Regions from separate parts of the Homo sapiens genome. Here region 2 is linked to region 1. Evidence: fine-mapped expression QTL. A gene starts in region 1. The other region holds a variant in brackets. All regions are shown on one strand. Distances are between the middles of the regions. Region 1 holds the start of BEAN1 (brain expressed associated with NEDD4 1). Region 2 has its middle 18 kb from the start of BEAN1-AS1.

The links.
Region 2: its variant is fine-mapped to the expression of BEAN1 in thyroid (GTEx, PIP 0.93).

What each region holds. Positions count from the first base shown.
Region 1 is chr16:66,422,652-66,431,518 of GRCh38, forward strand. It overlaps BEAN1 (brain expressed associated with NEDD4 1), which reads left to right and starts at 4,644. Exons shown (of 5, transcript NM_001178020.3): 1 at 4,644-4,780. RefSeq lists an enhancer at 5,472-6,072.
Region 2 is chr16:66,489,926-66,498,792 of GRCh38, forward strand. It overlaps a transcript of BEAN1 not described here. Among named protein-coding and RNA genes, the nearest start is that of BEAN1-AS1, 18 kb to the left of the region's middle. The variant G/C (reference allele first, on the strand shown) is at 5,084.

The sequences.
Region 1 (8,867 bases):
TCTGCAGAGTCTGGACCATTTGATCCCCCTTGCACCCACATACCCCAACTCATCCTCCATGCAGCAGAGAGATCTTTCTAAAATAACAACCTGACCAAGCCACCCCTCTTAAAGCCCTTATATGGTTCCCAAGGCCTTCACCCTATCATTCAAGGCCTTTACGACCTGCCTTTCCTGTCTTTCCTCATAACACACCATTCATTCACACTCAACTTTGCTCCCAATGTTCCGAGTTACCTGTGTCCCTGGAATCACCTTGGTCTCTTGACACCTATTCCATCATTGTACACATAAGCTATTCCCTCTCCTGGAACATCTCACTCACTGCATCCCATTCATCTGATGAAATCTTGATTGAACTTTAAGCTCAACTCAAGAAACACACCCTCAAAGAGGCCTTTTCTGACCTCCACAGATTGAGTTAAGTGTTTTTTCTTTGAGCACACATCTGGCACAGAAAATATATTGTTCTGGGATCATTTGTTTATAATCTGCTTCTTTTAACACATTGCCAGCTCCTAGAGGGCAGGGACCTTGTTTTCCACATCCTTTTTTTTTTCATCAGTTCATAGCAGAGTTCTTGGCCTGTAGTGAGCATCAGTAAGTATGCATGGGACATATGGGTGGATAGATGCAGATGGGGTAAGTGGATGGGTGATGGGAGTTTGAATGGATAGATGAGGAGTGGGTGAATGGGAGGAAGAATAAATGCATGTGTAGGAGGATGGGGAGGTGGTTAGATGAGAGGAAGGGAGGAAGGAAGGCAGGAAGGAAGGAAGGATTGAAAGATGGGAGGAGGCCTAGGTGGATAAGTGGGAGGACAGATGGGTGAATGGGTGGATAAACGGATAGATCATAGGAGGATGGAGAAAGGATAAGTGGACCCATAGGAGGATAGATGAGTGGATGGGTAGGTGGGTAGATGGATGGATCAATCAGTTCTGCCTAGGCTTAGGGTTCAGTCCTTAGATTGTCTTTGTGACCTGGACTCCTCTCAGAGTTCTGCTGCCTGCCGATGACTCCTGAAATTGAACATGTGTATAATCAAACTCATATTCTCCTTTCTCACATTTGATTCCCTTCTAGTGTTCTGTTCCTTGGTGACTGGCAACACCACCCACCTGCCTGCACCAGGTTGGCCTAACTTGTTTGGGGCAGGTTTAGGTAGAAATCTGGGTTCTGCTCCTAATTAGCTATGTGTCCTTGAGCAAGTTACTTGAGTGCCATAAACCTCACTGCTGCATGTGAAATATAAAGAAAATATTACCCACCTCCTCAGGATGTTGGGAGGATGGAATTAAATGCTGCATGTAGCATAACTAACACATTGTCAGGCCTCTCTAAGGAGATGTCAGGACTGGGCTGGGGGCAGGAGCAGAAAGTTCTATACCCAGTCCCTGCTCAGCGCTCAGCCACTTACCCTGAAATAAACTCTACCTTGAATACAGATCTTCAAGAAGCCCCAGAAATAAGTTTCCCCAGAAAGGCCGCTGGAGATAGGAGAGGAGAGGCTGTCTTTTATACTTCAGCTCCTGGAGACCTAGTCCAGGGTCCTAGAAGAGAGGTTTCCCTCCTAAAGGAAGACAGAAGGGGCAGCCTGGCTGTGTTAAGCCGTTCTTACATTGCTATAAAGGAATATATGAGACTGGGTAATTTGTAAGGGGGTAAAGCAAAGACATTTCAAAGAAGGAAGGATGGTAGGGAGGTACAAGCTGATCAGGCCCAAGAGACCCTTCCAACATCTCCATGCCATGGGCTCTGTTTGGGATGAATGACATCATGGATCCTGTTCTTTGCAAACAGAAAAGACGTTTTTTGGGATTCCCTGTGAGCGGCTGGGGTGACATGAAGCACACTCTAGGGCAAGCCCCAAAGCCCAGCACTTGGGGACTCTTTGGGCATCTCACTGTCCTGAGATCTCACTTCCTGATTTCCCTCAGACTCTTCCCTCCAGCATCCCTACCTATCCCTAGGCCAAGCAAACACTAAACACCACTGTGCCTCCCTGGTACCCAGTAGATGCCCCTTCTGCAAATCTGACCCTACACGAAGAAAGCCTCAAAACTATGACATACCTAGAGACATAAAGGATAGTCATGGGCATGCACAAGCCTCCCCATGAAGATGTCCGTTGCAGTGTTGTTTAGAAGTATGAAAAATGGAAACAAACTAAATGCTCAGAAATAGGGGACTGGTTAAAAAAATATGTGCAATACAACCATCTGATCCTATGCTAGGTAGCCACTAAAAGTGTGACATAGGAGAGGAGATATCAGTCAGCAAGCTCACTCCATTTAAGGACTCTTGTAGAGTTACACAGGTAAAAAGAAAGGAAAACAGGAAAGCTCAATATTCACAATGACTGGATTTTCTTTTCTTCTTTTTCCTTTTGTATTTTCCAAGTGCCCTACACTAATATATATTTGTGGATGGATACATAGACACACAGAGATTGGTAGGCACGCCGTCATAAGCCAGCTCCCTGAAACTACACCCAACACCACTGGAAAACAGTCCTGGTTCCAGTCTGAGGAGCAAGCCAGATTTGCCAGGCCAGTGATGCACAAATAGGGGAGTGGACGGGAATTAACTCTTTAGGGCTAGGACCTTCCGCAAGGACTCACTCAAAGTGTGCCACACACACTTATCCCTGGTCCCCCCACCCCCACCACAACACACACACACACAAACACACAGAGTCTTGCCAAAGGGGGCAGCTTACAGGCAAAACCACTCAACAACTAGAATATCCATCCTGGAAGGGTCAGCAGGTGTCCTCAGAGAGATCAAGGTTATACCGTGGGCACAGCCCTAGCTTGGGAGTTGTAGAGCCTCCAATCCTACCTCTTTGACCCTAGCCTATCCCCTCCTTTCTCTGATCCTTCATTTATTCATTCATAAAATAAATGCATGAGGTTGGACAAAGGGTCTCTCAGGTCCCCTTCCTCGGTTCTCTGAGAATTGTTTCCCTTTATTCTAGCCTCATCCCTTACTCAGAGCTGATGTCCCCGTGACAGCCCCAGCCTGCAGGAGGGCGGGGAGTGGGGGCGGGGGGGGGGCGGTAAATAGTGCAGGGAGCAGAGCCCAGAATGAACAGTTACCAGAGGAGGCTGGGAGATGTCCTCAAGCACCCAAGCCCTAGACCACGCAGCTTCCCCTGCCTGGCCCCAGGGAAGCCCAAGACGTGATGACTGGCAGGGCTGGGGTTTGTTTTCTCCACCGGAGCCTGCTCTGCCCCATCCTCCCTGCAAGGCCAGTCCCTGGCCAACTTTCCCTTCCACAACATCCCCATGGCTTCACTGCTTCCCCAAGGTTTAGCATCAACATGTTCAGCCCTTTGTCACCATGCTTTATTTTTGAGAACCACTTTCCCGCCAGTGACAAGCCTTTGGGTTTTGAAACGAACCCAGCTTTTGACTCCCCTTGCCTCCTAAGCCCCAGTTTCCTCATCAACAGTAGTGGTTCAGAGAGTGTTAGCAACAACACATTTCATCAATTCCTGCAGCAAATTCACTGAGTGCCCACTCTGTGCAGACCCCTGCAGCCCTACCCAGACGCTGCCCTCCTGGCGCTCCCAGGCAAGTGGCGGAGGTTAAATAAATAACTCCTCCACGCTGGCGAGCACCCCAACACAGTAGGGGTGCAATCATTGGGAGCAATATCCTAATGAGGACAGGGAGGCCTGAGAGATGGGCTGGGATTCGTCCAAGGCCCCAAAGCAGGGTGGGGACAGAGCAGGTCCTGGAAGCCTGGAACCCCGGCCTGAGCCAGGCATCCCCTCGGGGCCGGCTTCCACCTGCCAGGGCTGAGCCCTATGCCCTGACGTTTGGGCAGCGGGGAACGGGGGCACAGGGAGGGTGACGGGGTGAAGGAAACAGGCCTGCTGGTGGCTCCGAAGGAAGGTTTGGGCCAGGCCTAGCTGGAATCCCAAAACTCACCTGCCAGCAACCGCGAGCGGGAAGCCCTGCCAGGCTCGCCTGCCCCTGCCAGCGGCCCAGCCACGCTGGGTCCCCCTCTCCATCCCGCACTTTGCTCTTTGCCCGCGACAGGGGTCCCCTGCTCAAATGCCCAGCCTAGCCTCGGTCCAACCTGTCTGGCTGTCCTTCCCTGACACCTCGTTTGTCTACCCTTCTCTGCACGTGTCAGTGGCTCCCCGCTCGCGTCCGTGTGTCATTCCCTACACACGCCTGTGTGTCCTCTTCACACGTCTGACTGGAGCGTCGGCCTCCCGCATTTCCCGGCCTCCTCGCCGCCCTGCCCCGCCTGCTGCTGTGTGGGTGTCGGGCTGGCTGTGCGCAAAGGGGCGCGGCTCGGCCCTCCCCCGCACCCGCGCCCCCCGCCCCGCATCTCGGAGTGACCCGGGCCGCGGCGCCGCGGTGCTGAGGCCCGGGAGCCGCGCCGCCGCCGAGGGGGGCCGGGGCCGGTGACGGTGGCGTGGGCGGCGGCGCGGGGACGACGGGCGGCCGGGCGGGGCTGCGGCAGGGCAGGGCCAGGGCCAGGGCCGGGGCCTGGGAAGCCGCCGCCGCCGCTGCCTCGGCCCGGGATCGCGGGCGGCTGGTCGGCCCGGCTCGCCTGGCCCCGCCTGGCCCGCCCCGCCCCGCCCCTGCGCGCCCAGCAGGCCGAAGCGTAGCGGCGCGCCCCCCGCGACGCCCGAGCCCGAGCGCAGTGGCCTCCGAGCGGGAACCGGACTGGGAGCCGGAGCCGGGGCGGGAACCGGAGCTGGAGCCGAAGCTGGAGCCGGCACTGCGGCGCACGGAGCGGAGCGCTGCAGCCAAGCCGAGTAAGGGGCGTGGGGCTGGGCGGCGCGGGGGAGGGGCGGGCGGGGGGTCCCGGCCCCATTCCCCCGCGCTCTGCGGTGGTACCGGCGAACGACACACCCGGGGGCGCGCCGCGCGGAGCCTCGGTGCGCGGGGCGGGCGGATGCGCGGTCCGGAACGGAACCGCAGCGCGCTCGGAACGGAGCGGGATCCCGGGTCTCCCGCGGACCCTCGACCCCGGGCTGGCCACTGGGATCTGCGCGAGCCGAGGCTGACCCTGATCGCGCCCTCGGGCCTCGGGGAAGGGGAGGTATCCAGGTTTTCTGCCTGACTCGAGTCCCCGACGAGCATCAACCGCATTTGGGGAACCCAAGACAGCCTCCCCAGCAGCTTGCCCTCGGTTTCGGGGACCCCTGAACAACCCAACCAAGAAGGGAAAACTAGGGCGCACTCTCGGTCGGGGTGGGAGAGGAAAGGGGCTGGGGCTTCACGGAGTTTGGAGTTTGAACCCACCCGCACCCCTTTGAGCTAGGAAGTTTGACCCTTCGACGAGCAGGTCGCCTGGGGTATGCCCCTGTCTCCGTGCCTCTGTCTCAGCACCGAGCGTCGGAGAGAGAGCGCGCCCTCCGCACCTTCTCCCACTTTGGGACAGACTTTCCCTTGCGCTGTCAGAGGGACCCGAGGCTGAGTACGAGGCGAGGCGGCAGGCAGCTCAGGCTGGCTGCGCAGCGCTGAGTGGCACCGCCGCCGCTCCCCAGGGGCAGGGCCCACCCCACACCCGGCTGACTCTCGCTGCCCTTCCTCCTTCCCTATCGGGCTCTGCGGTCTGGAGGCTGGAGAGCGGTGAGGACCAGGGACTGCCCTGTCCATCTCGGGCGGGTGCCGGCGTGGGTGGCGGGGCGCAGGCTGGGAAAGGGAGGGCGCAAGTAACTGGTGTGAGAGGCAGGGGTTCAGGGATCCTTGCTCTTGAGCCACGATTTCCGATGAGCCCCTGCCGAGAGCATGCCGCTCTGGACTCACTCCTCAAACATAACTGCTCTGCTGGAACGAGAGACTTCACCACCCTGTGCCTCAGTTTCCTCATCTGAAAGTAAGCAGGAGTCTGTTGTGAGCGGGATGTTTAAGGGATTTGGAACCAGAAGGTGGGCTTGGCTGACTTCCTGGCTGTACAACCTTAAGCAAGACACAAACCTCTCTGAGCCTTAGTTTCCCCATCTGGAACATGGGGAAGGTGAGTTGGGAGGATTAAATGAGATGATGCTGGTGAGGGTATGTAGCCTGGTGCCTGGCACGCAGCCAGTGGCCAATTGTGGTGGGCTACAGGTGTCCTGAGGTGTCCAGCACCAGTAGATGCTGAGATTCAGTGCCTCTGAATCTGAAGTGGTGCTCCCAGCCCCCTCCAAGGAGGCCTTTGAATTCCCCAAGCTGTTGACATTTAATTGCAAAGCAAAACTTTCTCCTTAGGGCCCACCCTTTCTCAGACGCTCCCTCCTCCAAGGCTCTCTACCGCCCAGCCCAGTTCTCCCCTGCTACCTCCCATCTCTCTCCAGGGTGAAAAGGCTGCATCTGACTGTAAGGTGCACCCTTTTCCTCCTTGCCCTTAGCTGATGTCCGCTGCCCCAGAGAGGGGCACCCACCCATTGCTCGAGCTCCGTACAAGGGAATTTAACACCTCCCTCCACTCCCGGGTGGAGGATTGCTTTCCCTGAGGAGCCATCAGGCTGTCAGGTGGCTTGGACACACCGATGGTGACGGTTCAGACAGGCAGCAAGAAGCACCAGGGAGACAGCCTAGAGGTCTGAGGGGTCCCAGCCTTGATTCTTCGCAGACTATGATGTATTCGTCCAGGCAACTGGGCCATGAGGCACCAGAAATGAAGGATGTCGGGGAGGAAATGGAGCCAGTGATTGAGAGGTTCAAACTTCAGAGCAGGGTGTCCCCAGGAAGGGATTTGCTCCAGTCTGTGTGGCTGGGACCTTAGACCCAGAGCAGAGCAGGGCATAGGCCCAGGGGATAGGGGAGGATGCTGGGATCCTGGAGGTGGCAAGGAGCGGGTGGGCGGGCAGGAGTGATGGGAAGAAAGCAGTGGTCCAGTTCACACCCATGTTGGTCCCTGGCCACCTGTGCTGTGTGGGTGTTCTGGCCCAGCTGCCCAGAACAGGGATGGGGGAGGAATCTCAGATGAGGAAACATGTCCACATGGTGCCAGGGTACACCTGGTAAGACAGGCAAGATGAGCTGCCACCTGGGGCCTCCTACACGGAATCTCCCTCTCTCCTCTTCTTCCTCTGTAGCTTCCCCCTCCCCTTCCCCATTCACCCACTAGGGGTCACGTCGCTGTGTCTTCCAAAATCCTCACTCCTCATCTTCCCAAAGGAGTTAATCAGGAACTAATTAGGCTTGAGTCTCCTGCTTCGCTCAGGATTTGGAACACAGCCAGTGGGGAATGTGACGGGGATGCAGGCATTACTGTCAGGCTTTAGGAATAATCAGCCGGACACCCTCAGAGGACCATTGTCTGAAACTCTTGCCCTGGAAGTACTCAGAGGATAGGGTGAGGGGCATCTGCTGTCAGCCTCCTAAAGGGAGAAACTGAGGCCAGGAGGGCTTCTGCAGTCCATTAGCAAGCAGGCACAAACAAGAGTCACGGCTGAGAGCAGTTTTTTGGAGCTGGACCGCCTGGGTTTATAGCATGTGGTTCTGGGAAGGTGACTTATTTTTCAAAGCCTCAGTTCCCTCTTGAAAATGGGAATAAATGTTACACACCTCCCAGAATAGTGTGAGGATGAAGAAATCATATACAGATAGCACATAGCCATGTCCAGTGGACCTCTGCCAGTGGCCTGCAGTGTCAACATTGTGAACATGCATTGCACACACGCTGTTTCCTAAACGTATGCATTTTCTCTTTGAATTCTGATAACCAGCTCTCTGATTTAGGAACTATACTTGTTCCCATTTTATTGATGAGAACACTGAGGCTTGAAACGTTTAAGGACTATCTAATTCTGCCAGGTATAGAATAGTTAAAACATCACTATGACTCATCCTAATTGTATGAGTTTGTAAAACTGATAATTACCACATTGTAATTTAGATGATATGTAATCAGTTATTAGAATGATTCTTTCATGTACATCTTCAATCATTTTATGTCTGAGAACTGAAAAAGAATATGTTAATTGTCCACAGGCTATAGAATTTTTAGACACCTTCGTATTTTGTTTTCCTGTTTGAACAGTAATCAAACTGATTTAAAAGAGCAGTTCCCTGTTCATTACCTATCCTTCTTCTCTCCATTTTTCTCTAGAGCACTTATTACCTCCAACATCTATATATCTTATTCATTTGTCTATTGTATGCCCACGTCAATATAATGTGAGCACTGCAAGAACAAGGACTTTTGACTGTTTTGTTCACTATATCCTCAGAGCCTAGACTAGTACCCAGCACTTATTGTGCCTTCCAAAATTATAAAGTGTTTTACAAACATATGGTCTATTATTGTTATTATTTTTGCCAAGTGTATAGGTTGATTGAAAATAAAACATTAAGTTAATAGCAGAAACCATTCCCTCAAATATTTGGCAAATAGGACTTGCTCAAGTGCCAAGGATAATTTGATAAAGGTTAAAAACAATGGATATTATTTTTCTAGTATTATAATAAAGCTTATCAGTGAGTTCAATGACAAGTAAATTAAAAAAATTTTTTTCAATAACAAATGACATGTTCAAAGGCAATTAGATTAGCCTTAAAATTTTTCCTTGAGAACACCCCGGCATGGTGGCACATGCCTGTAGTCAGCTGCTCCAGAGGCTGAGGCAGGATCTCTTGAGCCCAGGAGTTCAAGACCAGCCTAGGCAACCCTGGCTCTTGACAACAAACAAACAAAAACCCCACAACTTCTAATGAATTAACGATCACTGACTTATTCACTTAATTGCTTTTCATTTTGTTAGCACAAAATGTTTTTTTGAGTCTTCATTTTAATGATTTTTCGGATTGTTATTAAAGTCATACATGTTCATTGTAAGAAATACAATTGTAAAATCATTAAAAATGTAAAACGCATAAAAATCCTCCTTAATCCCACCATCGCCCAGAGAG
Region 2 (8,867 bases), 67 kb after region 1:
TGTAGGGGGCAGGGGAGTTGGGAGCAGGGAGCAGAGATCCCAGCTGTGACGAGCCCAGGTCTGAGGCAGCTCCAAGACCAAGCACCCAGGTGGCTGTCCTTCCTGGCGACTGGAGAGGCAGGAGCCCAGCAGAGTCTCATAGAAAGCAAATGACAATCAAGACCCAGGTCCTCAGCCAGATGCGGTGGCTCATGCCTGTAATCTCAGCACTTTGGGAGGCCAAAGTGGGCAGATCACCTCAGGTCAGGAGTTTGAGATCAGCCTGGCCAACATGGTGAAATCCCATCTCTACTAAAAAAAAAAAAAAAAAAAAAAAAAAAAATTAGCCAGGCATAGTGGCACATGCATGTAGTCCCAACTACTTGGGAGGCTGAGGCAGGAGAATCGCTTGAACCCAGAAGGTGGAAATTGCAGTGGGCCAAGATCACGTCACTGCACTCCAGCCTGGGCAACAAAACAAGACTCTGTTTCAATAAAATAAAATAAAATAAAATAAAATAAAATAAAATAAAATAAAATAAAATAAAATAATAAAATAAAAAGAAACCTCTAAATTGATTGAGATCTGCCTCCGACACTTTTCAATTTACAAAAACATACCTAAGAATTGGCCACCCAGGGGCAGGAAGCTGGGGTTTCTATCCAGTAACTCTCACCCCGCTGGCCCTTGGTTGGTTGAGGGTCGCCACCTTCCTGGCGCTTCCAGCCTGTCCCGCACACTAGCAGAGTATGCCTCTGCAGCCAGCAGCACTCAAGGCATGAGGCATTACTGGGGATATCTGGATGGGATGGTAGTGTGGAAAGATGCAGATGCTGATGTGCCTGGTCTTCATTTTTTGTGGGGCAGGGGGACAAAGAAAGGACAAATCCTGACCTAGGCCCTGCTCCACTGGGAGGGGCCCGGTCACCCTCCAATCTCAGCTTTTCAGAGTGACAAGCAGTGGCAGGGCCTGGCTGCACATAGCTTTATCTCTTGCTAGCACAACTTCCTCCTTTGCTTCCAGATTGGGCTTTGGAGCAGGAGAGGCAGGACCCATCCATTCCTCCAAGTGCCCAGCCTGAGCCTGGCCTGGGACAGGACTCTATCCTCCATATCCAGCCCCCCCGAAGCCACCATGAGCAGGTCCCAATCCCCAGGCCCAGGCGAAGCTGCTCTGGGTGAGACCCTCCTGGGCAACATCATCAGCTACTACCAGGAGAGAGCAGGGGAGGGCCGGCTCGATGTCTGCAGGCAAGCAGCCCTCACCCACAGGGCCAGGTGGCTCCTGGGCAGGAGGGCCCCTCCATGGCTCTGTCTGCCAGAGGAAGTGGCCCTTGCTCTGGGTGGCTGCTGTTGTGGGGATCCCAGCCCTGTCCCAAAAGTCAGCCCTGAGCTGGTGCATGCACTAGAGTTCCTGGAGCTGATCTCTGTCAACCTGCTTCTGTTTCCCTGGAGGAAGGAAATCAGGTCCCTAAAGGTAGGCACTGCCACATGTCTGAGCAAGGGGGATTCAGCCAGGGGTTGGGGCTCTGCCTCTGGGAGAAACAGCATGCCCATCATATCCATTGACTTCAGTCCCATTTCAGTTTAAGAAATTGAGGGCTAAAGAGACAGATGCAACTTATCCATGGTCAACAGCTAGCAAGTGGTACAACTGCTCCTAACCACGAGACCAGCGGTCCCCAACCTTTTTGGCACCAGGGGCCAGTTTCACAGAAGACAATTTTTCCACAGACAGGGTGGAGGGATGGGGGCGGGGGTTAGTTTCAGGATGAAACTCTTCCACCTCAGACCATCAAGCATTAGATTTTCATAAGGAGCACGCAACCTAGATCCCTCTCATGCACAGTTCACAATAGGGTTCCACTCCTATGAGAATCTAATGCCACTGCTGATCGTGACAGGAGGCGGAGCTCAAGTGATAATGCTTGTTTGCCCGCCACTCACCTCCTGCTGTGCGGCCAGGTTCCTAACAGACCATAGACCAGTACTGGTCCAAGGCCTGGGGATTGGGGACTCCTGCACTGGACTGTTACTGCCTCTCCGAGGAAAGATGAACCAAGGTGCTCATAATAAACAACGGGAGGAGTTGGGCTTTAGAGAGCTACCAGAGAGGTTTTGTTTTTTTGTTGTTTTTCATTTTGTTTTGTTCTTGAGACAGAGTCTTGCTCTGTCACCCAGGCTGGAGTACAGTGGCGCGATCTTGGCTCACTGCAACTTCTGCCTCTCAGGATCAAGCGATTCTCCTGCCTCAGCCCCCTGAGTAGCTGGGATTACAGGTGTCCACCAACACACCTGGCTAATTTTTGTATTTTTAGTAGAGACGGGGTTTCACCATGTTGGCCAGGCTGGTCTCAAACTCCTGACCTGAAGTGATCTTCCTGCCTCGCCCTCCCAAAGTGCTGGGTTTACAGATGTGAGCAGTCACACTCGGCCCCTACCAGAGTTTTAATTTCTTCCTGCTCCAGGCCCTGACTGCTAGGCTGGGAGCTGGGATACCTAGAGCCTTACCCCAGCTCAGTCACTCTCTTTTTGCGTTTTTTTGTTTTTTTGAGATGGAGTCTCGCTGTGTGGCCCAGGCTGGAGAGCAGTGGTGCAATCTGTCCTCACTGCAACCTCCACCTCCTGGGTTCGAGCAATTCTCCTGCCTCAGCCTCCCAAACAGCTGGGATTACAGGCGCCTGCCACCATGCCCGGCTAATTTTTTTGTATTTTTAGTAGAGAGGGGTTTCACCATGTTGGCCAGGCTGGTCTCGAACTCCTGACCTCAGGTGATCCGCCCTCCTTGGCCTCCCAAAGTGCTGGGATTACAGGTGTGAGCCACCACACCCAGCCACTTTCTGAGTGTCTTTGGACAGATCCTGCTTTGTCTTTGAGCCTCAGTGTACCCCTGATCATGGGCCAGGCTTTCCTTTGGCCAAATGCCCTCATCCACGTGCTTCTCAGGAGCCCCTGGTGTCCCTCGGCACCAGCCCTTGGTCCTGCCTGGCCTGGCCCCTCTCAGCCACTCTGCTGAGGCCTGTCCCACTCCTAACAAGCTCCCTTGTCTGTTCTAGATGTACACTGGGAGCTTTACCTACTGGGTGCGATCTATGCTTTCCAGACACAAACTGGACGCCATCCTGGGCAGGCTGGGCTACACGGCCACCTTGGAGTCTGAGTTCTCACTGGTCCAGGCCATCAGCAAAGAGAATGTCAAGCAGATGGTGTTCAAGATCTTCCTGGTGAGGGTCTCATGTGAAGCCGTTCTCAGAACCGCGGGCACACGGATGCTTGAGCCGGGCACAGAGAAACTCGCTAGGACCCACAGCAGGCACAGCTCAGAGAAAAGGCTGGTGAAGCCCTGCAGCTGCCTCGAGGGGGTTCAGCCAGGCCCAGGTTCCGGGGGACCACAGCAAGGTCCCTCAGAAGGGGTGGGGTCCGAGACGGCCCTGGCAGAGGGCACTGCTGGCCAGAGATCTCTGCCCATGGCTCTGAGCCCATCTGAGGTCTCAACAGCCCCCAACAGCCTCCCCAGTGGCTCTCCAGTCCTCTAGGGCCCCCAGTGCCATGGCAGCACATGCCTGGACAGTGAGGAGGTCCTGCCTTGCTTCAGTGACCCTGTCTTACACTGGATGCCCTGGTTTCCCAAGGACATTTTCCTGAGAAGCCTGAAGGGAAACCAACTCCCAGGCCCAGCCCTGGCCCCTGGCCCTTCATCGGGTGAGGTGGTCACCGCCTCAGGGTGCAGCAGGGGGCAGCCCCTGGTCTCGGATGCAGTTCCTGAGAGCAGAAAAGTCACCATTCTCAGCCAGCTCTGCCCGACACCAGGTCCCCAATCTCCAGGGCAGCCCTTAGACCGGAAGCCAGAAGCATAGCTGGAGCTGGCCAGCCCCAGAATAGACGCCGCACCTCCCAGCACCTCTTCCGAGAGGAATGAGCTCTGTGAGTGCTCCCTCACCTTCTTGGTCCCTCAACTCCTGCAGGCCATCCTAGAGGCATCCCACGCCCTGAGGTGGAGGAAGATGGACAACTAGGGCCTCTTGTGGGGCCAGAGCCAACTGGTGATGACGGCAGCCCAGAAAGTGGAGTCACTCCATTCTGGAGGTCTACCCAGGCTCCCCTGCATGGATGAGAGCACCCCAGCACCCACTATACCCCCAGTGGGGGCTGGTGGCACCAGTACCCACCCAAAGACACCATCCCAGCAATAGCTGAGGGAGTGATCTCTCGCTAGTACAGGGCAGGCACCCTGAATAAGCAAATAGCTCTCACTGTGATGTCCACCAGGAGGTGACTGCTGGGAGAGGTGCTAGACCTGGGATCACAGCACAGGAGGAGAAGCAGGGCACGGGGGAAGAGTGGCCAAACCTATGGCTTGCTTGTGAGGCATAGGAGCCAATCTGCTAACCCCAAAAGGTCTCAAATTCCAGCCCTGCCATCGATGGCTTGTGTGACCTTGGGCAACTCACTCCACCTCTATGAGCCTCGTTTTCCTCATCTGTAAAGTGACTATGGTCAGACCTCCTTCCCAGGAGGCTGGGAAGAGTTAGTGAGGTGAGGTGTGCTCAGTGCCCATCAGAGACCGACCCAGAGAAGGGCCCCTCCCTTTAGGTTTTCTGTCCTCTTCATGTCCCAGTTCAGTTGTGTGACCCTGGGTAGGTCATCCTGCAGCTCTGAGTAGCCGCTTCCCTCAGCAGCCTTCAGACCCATTTCACCTATCACAGTGCAAATAAAGAGGGCATAGATGTGTAGACAACTGGATGTGTAGTACACCCTTAATCCATCTAGGATCCACTACTGGCCTCCCTTTTCTTTCGGCTAATTTGTTGGGAGCTCAGGGTCAACTCTCATGCCTGCTCTCCATCCAGGAGCGGGGGCACCCCCTCTACCTGCCATCTCCTGCCCCTTTATGTACACATATACATGCACATGTGCACACAAATAGGTACATTCAGGTATGGCACATGCACATACACATGCCCTTAGTCATTCCTCATTGGGATCCCAACAGAGGGCATCCTCCTCCAACCAGGGGCTTCTCTATGTGGTGGCAGGTGTCACTAACCCAGGGACGGCCTCTAGGCTTCCCATCTGTGAAATGGGAAAAATTAAATAGGTGAA[G/C]GTCCCTTCAGGGTGCAAAGCAGGTGTTTAATAATTGTTGGTACCTGCCTTTGCTCTCCCTGAAACTGAGCATATAACCACACCACTTTCAGTCCTTAAGACCAAGGGGGGGCCTCAGGCTGGAAGGATTTTAAAAGCTTTGGCTCCACCTGCATCCAAGTCAGACAGCAGTCCTAAAACAGCCCCTACACAGGCTTTCTGAGACACAAATCAGGAAGCAGTATGCACTGGGCAGCACAGGGCACGCTGGTTATCACCCACTCATCCATCCAACCATCCATCCCTCCCTGCCTCCCACCCTCCCTCCTTCCCTTGATCCTTCCTTCCTTCCTTCCCTCCATCCAACCATCCATCCATCCCTGCCTCCCACCTCCCTCCCACCCTGGATCCTTCCTTCCTTCTTTCCTTCCTTCCCTCCATCCAACCGTCCATCCATCCCTGCCTCCCACCTCCCTCCTGCCCTTGATCCTTCCTTCCTTCCTTCCTTCTTTCCTTCCTTCCCTCCATCCAACCATCCATCCATCCCTGCCTCCCACCTCCCTCCTGCCCTTGATCCTTCCGTCCTTCTTTCCTTCCTTCCCTCCATCCAACCATCCATCCATCCATCCATCCTTCCATCCATCCATCCCCACCTCCCACCTTCCTCCCTTCCTTCCTTCTATCCATCCAGCCATTCATCCATCCAACCATCCATCCATCCACCCATCCTAATCACTTAGCACAGCATCTGGCAGCCCACAGCCAAGCTGGAGAGCTGTCAGGGTGTGGAGCATTATCGGGAAAGTGAGGGAGCCACACCCCAGCCACAAGCCTCCATCAGGAACATCAAAAACAAGTGAGGCCAGATGCGGTGGCTCATACCTATAATCCCAGCACTTTGGGAGGCCAAGATGGGAGGATCACTTGAGCCCAGGAGTTTGAGACCAGCCTGGACAACATAGTAAGACCTTGTCTCTATTAAAAAAAAAAAATTAGGAGGTGGAGCCAAGATGGCCGAATAGGAACAGCTCCAGTCTACAGCTCCCAGCATGAGCGACGCAGAAGACGGGTGATTTCTGCATTTCCAACTGAGGTACCGGGTTCATCTCACTGGGGAGTGTTGGAAAGTGGGTGCAGGACAGTGGGTGCAGCGCACCAAGCATGAGCCAAAGCAGGGTGAGGCATCGCCTCACCCAGGAAGCGCAAGGGGTCAGGGAATTCCCTTTCCTAGTCAAAGAAAGGGGTGACAGACGGCACCTGGAAAATTGGGTCACTCCCACCCTAATACTGCGCTTTTCCAATGGTCTTAGCAAATGGCACACCAGGAGATTATATCCCGCGCATGGCTCAGAGGGTCCTACGCCCACGGAGCCTCGCTCATTGCTAGCACAGCAGTCTGAGATCAAACTGCAAGGTGGCAGCAAGGCTGGTGGAGAGGCGCCCGCCACTGCCAAGGCTTGAGTAGGTAAACAAAGCAGCCAGGAAGTTCGAACTGGGTGAAGCCCACTGCAGCTCAAGGAGGCCTGCCTGCCTCTGTAGACTCCACCTCTGGGGACAGGGCACAGCCAAACAAAAGGCAGCAGAATCCTCTGCAGACTTAAATGTCCCTGTCTGACAGCTTTGAAGAGAGTAGTGGTTCTCCCAGCATGCAGCTGGAGATCTGAGAATGGACAGACTGCCTCCTCAAGTGGGTCCCTGACCCCTGAGTAGCCTAACTGGGAGGCATCCCCCAGTAGGGGCAGACTGACACCTCACACAGCTGGGTACTCCTCTGAGACAAAACTTCCAGAGGAACGATCAGGCAGCAACATTTGCTGTTCACCAAAATCCGCTGTTCTACAGCCTCTGCTGCTGATACCCAGGCAAACAGGGTCTGGAGTGGACCTCCGGCAAACTCCAACAGACCTGCAGCTGAGGGTCCTGACTGTTAGAAGGAAAACTAACAAACAGAAAGGACATCCACACCAAAACCCCATCTGTACGTCACCATCATCAAAGACCAAAGGTAGATAAAACTACAAAGATGGGGAAAAAACAGAGCAGAAAAACTGGAAACTCTAAAAATCAGAGTGCCTCTCCTCCTCCAAAGGAACACAGCTCCTCACCAGCAACAGAACAAAGCTGGACGGAGAATGACTTTGACGAGTTGAGAGAAGAAGGCTTCAGATGATCAAACTACTCCAGGCTAAAGGAGGAAGTCCAAACCCATGGCAAAGAAGTTAAAAACCTTGAAAAAAAATTAGACGAATGGCTAACTAGAATAATCAATGCAGAGAAGTCCTTAAAGGACCTGATGGAGCTGAAAACCAAGGCATGAGAACTACGTGACGAATGCACAAGCCTCAGTAGCCAATTCGATCAACTGGAAGAAAGGGTATCAGTGATGGAAGATCAAATGAATGAAATGAAGCGAGAAGTTTAGAGAAAAAATAATAAAAAGAACACAGCCTCCAAGAAATATGGGACTATGTGAAAAGACCAAATCTACATCTGATTGGTGTACCTGAAAGTGACGGGGAGAATGGAACCAAGTTGGAAAACACTCTGCAGGATATTACCCAGGAGAACTTCCCCAACCTAGCAAGGCAGGCCAACATTCATATTCAGGAAATACAGAGAATGCCACAAAGATACTCCTTGAGAAGAGCAACTCCAAGACACATAATTGTCAGATTCACCAAAGTTGAAATGAAGGAAAAAATGTTAAAGGCAGCCAGAGAGAAAGGTCGGGTTACCCACAAAGGGAAGCCCATCAGACTAACAGCTGATCTCTCGGCAGAAACTCTACAAGCCAGAAGAGAGTGGGGGCCGATATTCAACATTCTTAAAGGAAAGAATTTTCAACCCAGAATTTCATATCCAGCCAAACTAAGCTTCATAAGTGAAGGAGAAATGAAATACTTTACAGACAAGCAAATGCTGAGAGATTTTCTCACCACCAGGCCTGCCCTAAAAGAGCTCCTGAACGAAGCACTAAACATGGAAAGGAACAACTGGTACCAGCCACTGCAAAAACATGCCAAACTGTAAAGACCACTGAGGCTAGGAAGAAACTGCATCAACTAATGAGCAAAATAACCAGCTAACATCATAATGACAGGATCAAATTCACACATAACAATAATGTAAATGGGCTAAATGCTCCAATTAAAAGACACAGACTGGCAAATTGGATAAAGAGTCAAGACCCATCAGTGTGCTGTATTCAGGAAACCCATCTCACGTGCAGAGACACACATAGGCTCAAAATAAAGGGATGGAGGAAGATCTACCAAGCAAATGGAAAACAAAAAAAGGCAGGGGTTGCAATCCTAGTCTCTGATAAAACAGACTTTAAACCAACAAAGATCAAAAGAGACAAAGAAGACCACTACATAATGGTAAAGGGATCAATTCAACAAGAAGAGCTAACTATCCTAAATATATATGCACCCAATACAGGAGCACCCAGATTCATAAAGCAAGTCCTTAGAGACCTACAAAGAGACTTAGACTCCCACACAATAATAATGGGAGACTTTAACAACCCACTGTCAACATTAGACAGATCAACGAAACAGAAAGTTAACAAGGATATCCAGGAATTGAACTCAGCTCTGCACCAAGCGGACCTAATAGACATCTACAGAACTCTCCACCCCAAATCAACAGAATATAATTCTTTGCAGCACCACACCGCACCTATTCCAAAATTGACCACATACTTGGAAGTAAAGCACTCCTCAGCAAATGTAAAAGAACAGAAATGATAACAAACTGTCTCTCAGACCACAGTGCAATCAAACTAGAACTCAGCATTAAGAAA